Linked DNA regions of Homo sapiens: region 2 is linked to region 1. Evidence: fine-mapped expression QTL. Tissue or cell type: lung. Region 1 holds a variant in brackets; the other region holds the start of a gene. All regions are shown on one strand. Distances are between the middles of the regions.

Evidence for each region. PIP is the estimated chance that this variant, and not a neighbour inherited with it, causes the effect.
Region 2: PDPN starts here. The variant in region 1 is fine-mapped to the expression of PDPN in lung (TOPMed, PIP above 0.99).

What each region holds. Positions count from the first base shown.
Region 1 is chr1:13,615,257-13,620,482 of GRCh38, reverse strand. It overlaps PDPN (podoplanin), which reads right to left. Exons shown (of 6, transcript NM_006474.5): 6 at 2,526-4,578. The coding sequence ends at 4,572. Among named protein-coding and RNA genes, the nearest start is that of PDPN, 34 kb to the right of the region's middle. The variant A/G (reference allele first, on the strand shown) is at 2,410.
Region 2 is chr1:13,581,049-13,586,274 of GRCh38, reverse strand. PDPN (podoplanin) reads right to left here and starts at 2,443. Exons shown (of 6, transcript NM_006474.5): 1 at 2,175-2,443. The coding sequence starts at 2,241. RefSeq lists an enhancer at 2,002-2,540.

The sequences.
Region 1 (5,226 bases):
CCAGTGAGCCCTGGGCCATCCACAGATCCAGCCTCACCTACAGATGCTCTGTGGAAGGGTGGGAACAGGAGCAACAGGAAGGGGTCCACCTCCTGCTTCGGTCAGGACACCTGCACACCTTCCTGAGGTTACATGCGGAGGACCGTAAGCTCATTTATTCAAACAAATATTTCAGACGACCTCTTTGACTACTTCAGCAGCATCCAGAGGGAAGCCGTCACTTCAGAAACATTTGCTGATCGCCCTGGTATGTGACCAGCACGTGATTGTTTTCTCAAAAATTTGCATCAGTGGAAAGGCAGAGGCAGCAGTAGAGAAGGAGGTAGGAAAGAAAAAATGGGAGGAGGAGCAAGGTCTCAGAACCACGCATAGGACTGTCTGTACTATGGCCCGGAGCCCTTGGATGTAGAAATAGAACACGCTGTGCTTTGAGTCAGCATCTGATAAAATAATCTCAGAGTAAGAAACAGTGCTGAGGAATAGTGTTTAGTGCTTTCAGGCTGGCTTTGCCTGTACCAGGTACGTACCTGCATGCTGGGCCCCTGAGCCAAAAAAACTCCCATTCACACCAGTGAGTGTGATTTTAGACTCATTCTGCATTGTTGACCAATAACCACACTTACATCATTTATATTTACTGAGTTGAAAAATCCAGGATCTATTATATGTTCTAACCCGATTTTAAGCTTCAGGAAGAGCAAAGAAAAAGGCAATGTTTCAGGGAACAAGTCCTCCAGCGCACACAAGGGGATGACTCTATTTTTAGTGCATGTGTTAACATGCAGCTATATTTTGGGGAGGATTCTTTTTCCACTTCCAATGGACTTTTAATTGGCAAAAGTTTTAATATCAAAACGTGCACCATTCCCCAATCGAAGCATGTCACAAACTGCCCCATGCCCTGAATACTAAATAAATCTGAATTAAAATAAAAATAGAGACAGCAAAGGGATTAACAGTTCCTTGCTCTTTCCTATTCATGAAAGCCAAGCCTTGAAGGTGGCCCATGAAGCAGAACTAAGCCCTGGTTTTTCAACTGGTTTTCCCAGGTTGAGGGGAAAAAGTAGGGGTTAAAAACAAGGCCTTTATATCATGCAAAGAGCTAACCTCAGCACCCCCTGCTCCCAGATGTCTCTGATAGAGCTGTTTCCCTAAACTTTCAGAACCCTGGCAGCTCCCCCAGTTTCCAGTCATCTCCTGGGGGTGGCATGTAATGGAATGTAAATTTACATGTAACATAGTTGAGGGTCCGTTCTCTTTCAATCTGTTGGACTAGGTAGACGTGGTTAGTTTCCTGCTAGAAAAGGGATGCTTTCTGACATCTCATGAAAGTTCTTAGAAGAAACTGCAGCCCAAAGAAGTTAAATGACTTCCCTGAAGGGTTACAGGTGTGGAGGAGCAGAACAGGACTAGAACCCTGGTCCATTTTTTAAGAGATGGGGCTCTCACTTTGTTGCCCAGGCTGGCCTTGAACTCCTGGCTTAAACGATCCTCCCACCTCAGCCTCCCAAACAGCTGGAACTACAGGCATACAATATGGTTCCTTGTTTGGAACTCAAATGGGCACCCAGGATTACTGACAACGGACAAATTCAACAGTCCTAATTTAACAATATTGAATATTTATTTCGAGGAAGTCATGGGGCTAACTGCTCTCCCGCTCCTAGCACCTGATCCTTACGCTGGCAGGGAAGGGACCCGCATCAGGAGGATAAATCCACATGGAGTGGTGCGGTGGGGTCGGGAGGAGGAGATCTGCAGCACCCACCCAGGAGCTGGCCAGGGCAATCTCCAGACAGAGTCGGGGTGAGCAAGGAACCGTGGGGCGTCCCCCAGCAACAGGGATTCACCTCTCCTGAGGTGAGGTTTCTAGGGAGGACTAGCAGGGGCAAGATGAAATTGCCCCCTCACCTGGTTTTACCCTCCAGTGCTGAGAAATTAATCAGGTGGCTGGGCACAGTGGCTCACACCTGTAATCCCAGCACTTTCGGAGGCCGAGGCAGGGAGAGATCACGAGGTCAGGAGATCAAGACCATCCTGGCCAATGTGGTGAAACCCCGTCTCTACTAAAAATACAAAAATTAGGTGGGTGTGGTGGTGCACGCCTATAGTCCCAGCTACTTGGGAGGCTGAGACAGAATTGCTTGGGCCCAGGAAGTGGAGGCTGCAGTGAGCCGAGATCGCGCCACTGCACTCCAGCCTGGGCGACAGAGCGAGACTCCATCTCAAAACAAAACAGAAAAAATCAGGGAAAACCTCATTAACCCTTTGGGACCAGAGAGGGAGAGAGCCCCCAGGTGCCACGTGTCTCCCATGCCCATGCTTCTACTTGACCTCTCTACTTTGGCAGACCTAGCTGAAAGGTGTAGGTGTGTTTTCCTCCTGTGGAATTCATTCCCCTGGCCATCT[A/G]TAATCCACTCTCAAGCAAGGCAACAGGCAGGCATTTACCTAAGTTGTAATCTTATCTGGAGATGTTCCCAAGTGTGGCCCAGACTTGTGTTTTCCAACAAAAGTCTGACTCATTGTTGTACACAATCATTTGTTTTATTTGAAAACATGTCTACACTGCATTGAGCACCAACACAGGTGTGACCAAGAAACCCACAGTCCTGTCCCCGCAGGCACTGGGTCCAGTGTATGACTTGGGGTGGACTGTTATTTTTCACAGTGAGGGGGGAAGAAAGGATAGGAAAGAAAAGATGGCCATTATCCCAACTCCTGTTCAGGAATCTGAACAATGAGTTATTTAAACTCATCCAGCTCTTCTCATTCCCCTTCTCTCAATCAGCTGGTGTTCAAATATGGAATCTGAGGCCGAGCGCAGTGGCACACGCCTGTAATCCCAGCACTTTGGGAGGCCGAGGCGGGCAGATCACGAGGTCAAGAGATAGAGATCATCCTCGCCGATACGGTGAAACCCCATCTCTACTAAAAATACAAAAATTGGCCGGGTGTGGTGGTAGGAACCTGTAGTCCCAGCTACTCAGGAGGCTGAGGCAGGAGAATTGCTTTTTGACATCCTGACACATGTATAATTGCCGGGAGGCAGAGTTGCAGACTACGTTTCACACACACACACAAAAAAAATGGAATCTGAGCTGGTGGGGCCAGCTGGATTTGGGAACACACAGACACACTGTTTAAAATAACATCCAGACATCATTGCAAAAAATGGGAGGAATGGGCTGTGCTTCCGAATGATAGTTTACTTTTTCCTGTTTTATGAATGCTTACAAATTTAGAGGATACCAGAATTGCACAACCGCCATCATGACAGAGCATCTGCTCAGTGTAAAAACTTTGTTTAGGAAAAAAAAAAAAAAATCCAATGGATATATGGGAAGAGAAGTGCCAGGCTGGATGGTGCTGAGACAGAATGACCCCTTGGGCTCCTTTATTTTGTTCTTTTCAACAGGACCCCACAGATATTTGCGGTATGTCATGAGGACTGGGGATGTCTTCTATTTTTAAATCAGGTATTTAGTCAAGCTGCTTTTAATATTAAGACTGTACAAATTGATTTTTGTTCCCTGTATCTTTCCTCAGAGGCAGAAAGTGAATGTTATAAAACTGGCAGATTTTATTTCTCATACCAGAGGCTCACACAGGATTTCTTTCTGCATGGGGGACAACTGGCTCTTGGTTTCAAACACACTTGAGCCTCTAGCACCATTAAGCATCCAGCAGCTTCCTCGGCATCCAGGCTGAGATATCCATATTCCAGAACAAAGCAGCCAATGTGAAGGATGTGCATCACTGGGAAGAGAGAAGGCTGCCCCCTTAGCCCTGGCTCCTCATCATCTGAGGGAAGTGGAGGGGGCAGGTGGGAGCAAGCTTAGAGTCACCAAGTCATGGCTGGAGAAGGATTTGGGTAAAGCAACTCTAGAGGCTGCCTGGTGGCCTACTTGGGAGAAACAAAGTGCCTTTGAGACTATCGACTTCCTGCTTGTGATCTAAAATGGATGTCTTTGAAATGATTAATCTGGACCAGCTAAAGGCAGTTGTTCACCACGTGTTATCCAAGTTTAGATTTCCTAGTTGATTATTCACACCAGATCAGGCTTTAAAAGATAGACCAAACTAGACCAGAATGTGTACATTTCAGCAGATCAGCAATTGCAAAATGCTGGTGCTATTTACTGACGTAGCACTGGATCCAAGGACTCCGTGGATATAAATATTTCCAGATTCCTCTGCATTTTAACAATAACAAGAATGGTCAGACGGAGACACATGGTTACAGCATATAATATCGATCCAATGGTCCAGTGTTAGTTACAAATCAGTTTATACAGTTTTGCTCCATTTTCTATGAATTTTGTCTTTCAAATAATCTTTTATAGAATGTATATTCAAAAACATGTTTGAACAGCAAATGTTTAGAGGAGCCAAGTCTGGTGAACGGTCTTTCCTTCGGTTATTTTGGCAAGCGGAGAGGTCACCGTGGATTCTGAGTGGGCCAGGCAAGTGTTCCACGGGTCATCTTCTCCCACGAGCTCAGGGACAGGGCACAGAGTCAGAAACGGTCTTTTTTTAAGCACGTTGGCAGCAGGGCGTAACCCTTCAGCTCTTTAGGGCCTGTGAAAATAGAGAAGGGTGACGGTCGTGTCTCTTACTGGCATTGTGAATAGTAACTCCGTGAGTCCTTTTTCCTATTGTCCTTTGCTCTAAATCTTCCAAGTTCTGACACCTGGTGATCATCTCTTGTTCCTGACATTCCTCCTCCATGCCTTCGTCCTCACACAGCAGGGTCAAACTGCCTGGCTTTTCCAAACACGCTAAGTCCACAGCTGTGTTGTCCCCTGTATCCCTCAACCCTCCAGGTGTTTATCACTTGTCCTCTCCCCTCCCTTCCATCATATATCATCCCTCCAACTCATATAAGAAAAAGGTTTTTGGCTGGGTGCGGTGGCTCATGCCTGTAATCACAGCATTTTGGGAGGCTGAGGTGGGTGGATCACGAGGTCAGGAGATTGAGACCATCCTGGCCAACATGGTGAAACCCTATCTCTACTAAAAAATACAAAAAATTAGCCAGGTGTGGTGGTGCATGCCTGTAGTCCCAGCTACTTGAGAGGCGGAGGCAGGGGAATCGCTTGAACCTGGGAGTCAGAGGTTGCAGTGAGCCGAGATCGCACTACTCCATCCAGCCTGGTGACAGAGCAAGACTGTCTCAAAAAAAAAGAAAAAGAAAAAGAAAGAGAAAGAAAAAGGTTTCCTCTGGCC
Region 2 (5,226 bases), 34 kb after region 1:
TTCAGGGCCTCCAAACTGGCAAGCGTTTCGGGGAAATCACAGGGAAATTTGTTGGCCGCATGATTAATCCTGGGTGGATTGGTCCCGGAAAAGCACATGTGGGTTAGCAGCGAGCAGCAGCTTGCAGAATCTCACAAAATAAACTCTCTAATGAAGTGGCCCCCAAAACGTGCCTTCCTGATGAAAGTTCAGCATGAGGGTGGCGCCTGACAATGGAAAAAAATGCCAGATGTGTGGACAACAGACCTCCTTTGAATCCACTAACACCCAAAGGGATGACACATGGGACCAGATTATAAAACTGAACCAGATTATAACCCTGGAGGAGGGAAACCCAGTAGGGCGTAGGATCTTATGAAAAGGATCATAAAATTCATCACCATAATTACCCCCCAGCCCAGCTCCCCAACAAAAGCCCACAATAGCTTCGCTCAATGATGTTATTCATCCATATTCAAGTCGCCTCGCTCATTATTCTCAGACAAAAACCCTGCTGGGCCTCTGCTCCTCTGGCAGCCAGGCAACTCAGCACCCACCCTCACTCAGCCAGCCCCGCATACCACTTCTTTCTTTAGTAGTGGAGTTTCCAGCACCAACGATGGTTTTTCGGTTTTAACGCCATCTTTTAGGAGTACCTTTGACATTCAGGAGCCGGCTGAAGGGAATCACAGCTAAAGCTTCCCTGGGCAAAAACAAAGGATGTTACCCAGCAGCTTTTTCTTTAGCAGGGCTGAGATGCTGAAGTGAGGGCGCTCCCTTGCTTTGCCCTGGTGAGCACAAAACGGTGTCATTTGCACATTGTCTCGCCAAAAAGGAAATGTAACTGAAAATACAGAACTGTATATATTCCAGTGGAAAGAGAAGTTCCAAAGATAGGACTGCTACGAATAACCCACGGCCCCTATAAAAAGAGTTGCTCAGTCCCTTTGAAGCAGACAGCACAGCATAGAGCAGAACTCTGTCATTTCCCTGAGATTGGGTATTTTTGTCTGTGTGGACCATTGTAGGAGGCCAGGTTAGGCGCACCCCTCCTGCAAACCGCTCCCTCTCCAAGAAGTATTCCTCAGGGCCTAGGCCTACCTTGATCCTCAATTTTTGGAAAATGTTTACTTTTCACAGCATAACTCAGCAACCTCCAGCCCCAAAGATCACGAGTTAGGTTACAATTCCTTCAACCAACATTTAGTGAGCAACTACTATGTGCCAGGCATTGTTTTGGCCGTGGGGAATCATGGCTGGATGTAGCTGCGTCCTGCAGAACATATGTTCTATTGAGGAAATATAAAAATAAAAACCCAAGAAAAGAAAACAAAATGTTGACAGATGTCAATGGAGACCACCAACACAGCAACCCAGCGGGAAGAGGTAAGGCTCCAGGAGAGGACAAAGGGTAATGGAAGCTGTGGACGCCCCCACCCCAACATGGGATACAAAATATTTAAAGCCTAAGGAGTCACCAACAGACATTCAGCCACTGATGTTGTTGCCCAAGATGAACACGTGGCTCAAACCCACTTAAACCTCAATGTTCGTAACGCGTAACAATCCTCATGCACTCACACTCCTCGGAAGCCTCCACTTGGATCCTTTCCACACACACTATCCTCTCTAAAGAGGATAAAGGAGGCCTCTTCCAGTCCAGTGACGGGGTGCTGAGTGTGTCCAACAGGCAGGGCGCCAGACTAGGTAGTCCCAAGGGGGACCAGGGCCACCGCAGGGCGGGGAACCCTCCCCTTGGCCCAAGCCCTCCTGAACGTCCCTCCTGATTCTACGAGGCCAGCTTCTCCCGAGGCGTGCGTATTCCTCCAACACACCGCTCTATGGGAAGGAAACCCCAGCCACTGCTGCCAGCAAGCGGGGCTGCCTACTGTGAACCTTCCACCCGATCTCTCTGGTGCTGCCGACTCGGAGGGAGGCCCCCTGTGCTGCCCACCTCGCAGCCTGTGGATTCCGGGGCTCCTCCCGGCACACCCGCGCAGCTGCGTCTTTGGGACCTGGCACCGACTAAGCCGCTGCCTCTCCTCCTCCGGCGCTCAGCCGCCTGACACGCACACACCCTCAGCTCCCCCGCGCTCCCCTGGACAACCTCGAATACCAGGCCCGGGCATTCCAGCAAGTCTCTGCTCGCTCGTCCCCATCAGCGACGGCAGGAAGCCACTTGCGCTGGGTCTTACCTCCTTCTGCCAGGACCCAGAGCGACGCGCTTCCCAAAACGAAGAGCAGAGCTGACACCTTCCACATCGTTCCCGTTGAGTTGTTGCTCTCCTGGGGGCCGAGCAGCAAGATTCTGAGCTGGGGGAAAATTAAAAAGCACCGCGGCCACAGGCCCAGCCTGGAGGAGCGCGACGGTGGGGGGGCCGGAGGGGTGGGAGCAGGAGCCCCGGAGAGGGAGGGTGCCCGAGCTTCCCAGACCCTAGGCAGCCGGACAGCAAACTTTGCAGTTGAGAACTTTCCGAGCGGAGTCAGCATTTATCTCTCCCGAGGAGGCGGGGGAGCGGGGTCGGCCGCAAGGTGGTCTCCGTCCGGGCGCGCTAGGCCCGCCCTCGGGCTCTGTTTGGCCGGCGCCAAAACGATGATCTCAGGCCAGGTTTAAAGTTACAGGGCCGCAGCTGCGGGGGCCGCCAGGACTGCGGGCCCTGGCAAAATGGGCTTTTATTCTGCTCAACAACAGGAGGGAAAGGGACCACATGCAACAAACGGGGTTTTAAAAATTATATATAAATTTTAAAAAACCTATATTTATTATTATTATTTTTTTAAGAGTAAGGCACAAGTCTATGTTTTTCTTGTTATGGGCAGAAGTGAGAAGTAAACTGTTTCTTGAGTGGCCAGTAGTTTTAGAACCAAGCATGGGGTTTTTCCTGTAAATATTGAATTTGATGGCTTAAAAACAAAAAAAGTTGGCCGTCATCTGGGTGGGCCAGAGGCGGCCCGCGCTGGTCAATTGCGCCCTTGTCCCGGGGACCGGAGCGGGCGGGCTCCGGGGGGCTGCCCCAGAGCTGGCTGGTGGGGGAGTTTGGCAGACCGGGTGGCTTTGGCAGTTTTGAAAAAGAGGCTGAACTCCATCCGCCTCTGCCGACCCGGGGATCCAGCGCTGCGATGCTGTGGCCCACCGACGTGCGCAGTTGGATTAGGCCGGGCCAAGCGGTGACCCGTCTGGTCGCCAAACCTGTGTCCCCTTCCAGGCCTGGTTCACCCTCTTTATTCCTGAGTTTGCTCCCATAATCCTCACTTTACTGGTTTAAGCGATCTTGCCTTGATCTCAGGTACCAGATATCAGCAACCAGAGAACTTACGTCTTTTACTTTAATTCCTTCTGAATTGCTGGAATTTAAAAAAATAAGAACAGGAGTTTGGGAAGTGGTCTCTGCTCCACTCCCAGATGCCACAAATTCCATTCAACAAAAGAACCTGAAGACTAACGCTGTCTCAAAGCTCCACATTGCGTGAAAATTGTTTTCAGATGCTTATCTTTGACCCCTCCCCATTATAAATTTACTTTCTAAGAATCACAGGAGAGATTGTTTTAAATAAATGCCCAGTTTCCTGGGTTCCACCCCAAACTCATTAATCAGACCTTTTCGGAATTCCTATTTTAAACCAGTGTCGCTGGAGAACTTGTCCCCATGAACATTTGGCAAACCTTGCCCTTCATCATAGCTTCTCAGCCAGATCTACCTGGGGCACTGGTTATGCAGGTGCAATTCTGTTGTGGGATAGGGAGAGATTCTGCATTTCTAAAGATCTCCCAGGTAACGTCTTGTCCTGGGGCTACAAACAGGAGCTGAGCACCTGAACCTAGAAGATGAGGGGTAGCGGCAACACCCCTAGAGCCAAGGAGTTGGAAATGTAAAGAGAAAACTCGTGATACAGATACTCTTTCTTGAACTGACTTCCCCATCTTGGAGATGCATTTTATGACTCTAGTGTCAATAATGTCTGTTGACAGGAGGAATAGTGCATTGTCTGTTGAGCCTGTTAGATGGAGAATAGATGCACATCTATTCTGCTTATGTGTAACTCCAAGGTCACACACAGAAAGAAAGATGGCCCGCTTTATTCAAAAAGATTGAAACACAGTGAAGCCTAGGTGGGGGAGATTGGGTTACATGCAACTAATTTAGAGGGATGCTGAGGCTAGGTCATGATTCAAGGACACCTGCCTTCTATCCCACACCCCCGGATGTGTCTAGAATCTAGAAGGTTGGTCACATGACCTTTTGATCAGGATGGAGGAGTGGGAGGTAATAAGGAATTGCATTCAGCTGGGGGTCCTGGGGTGGGGAGAGGGGCCAGGATGAAGGAGTTAGTGGATCGGCTCTGGGTGCTGTTGGTCTGAAAACCTAGAGAGAAAAGCTGGGTCTTGGGAGGGGGAACCTGAAGACCAGAGGGAAGAAAGAACTCACCCTCCTGGACCAGATAGAGCCAGCAGCTCATGAGAGAAGGAATATGGGCCTTGGGCAGCGAGACTCGGTTAGCTAAAGGAGCTGAAGTGAAACACAGGGGATCTGGAAGCATGAGACCCTGCTCAGCTGAGGGGAAGAGGGAAAGAAGGAGGGTATGTGGCTCCATTCTTGGCAAACAGCTTAAGCTCAGAAAGCCATGGCCATGAATGATGATGCGTTACTGGTGAGATAACAGCAGCTGCTACATACTGGCCTTTATCTTCCTGCCAGGAACACGCACTATTTCCTTTCAGCCCCAAAACAACGGTTGGCTTCCAAACATTGATGATACCCATTTCCTACACAAGTGAGGTTGAGAGTGGATTCACCTGGAGGGCTTGCTTGCCTGGAAGGCAAGACTGCTGGGCTCCACTGCCAAAGTGCTGATTCAATAGGTAAGGGGTGGGGCCCAAGAATTTGCATTTCCAACAAGTTCCCAGGTGATGCTGAAGCTACTGGTCCTGGGTCCCCACTTTGAGGACTGTGGGTTTAGAGGCCACCATGCAAATTGTGTGGGATCCTACAAGGTAGGAGCGGTGGGGTCATGCATTTCCATTGCAGAGCAGGAGTTGAGCCTGTTACTAGCACTGTGCCTGTGCCTTGCAGGACTGTGTGGGAAACGTCTGTAAATTGCTTTTAGGAAGCAAGAGGACCCCCAAAAGGTGTGGACCAGCAGTGGAATGAGGAGCTGAGCCAGAGCTGCCAGTTTGGTACCTTCCACCCTGGGGGATGCTGGAGATGACACATCAGGGTCTCCTCAAGCTCTGTGTTTTTCTGAGGG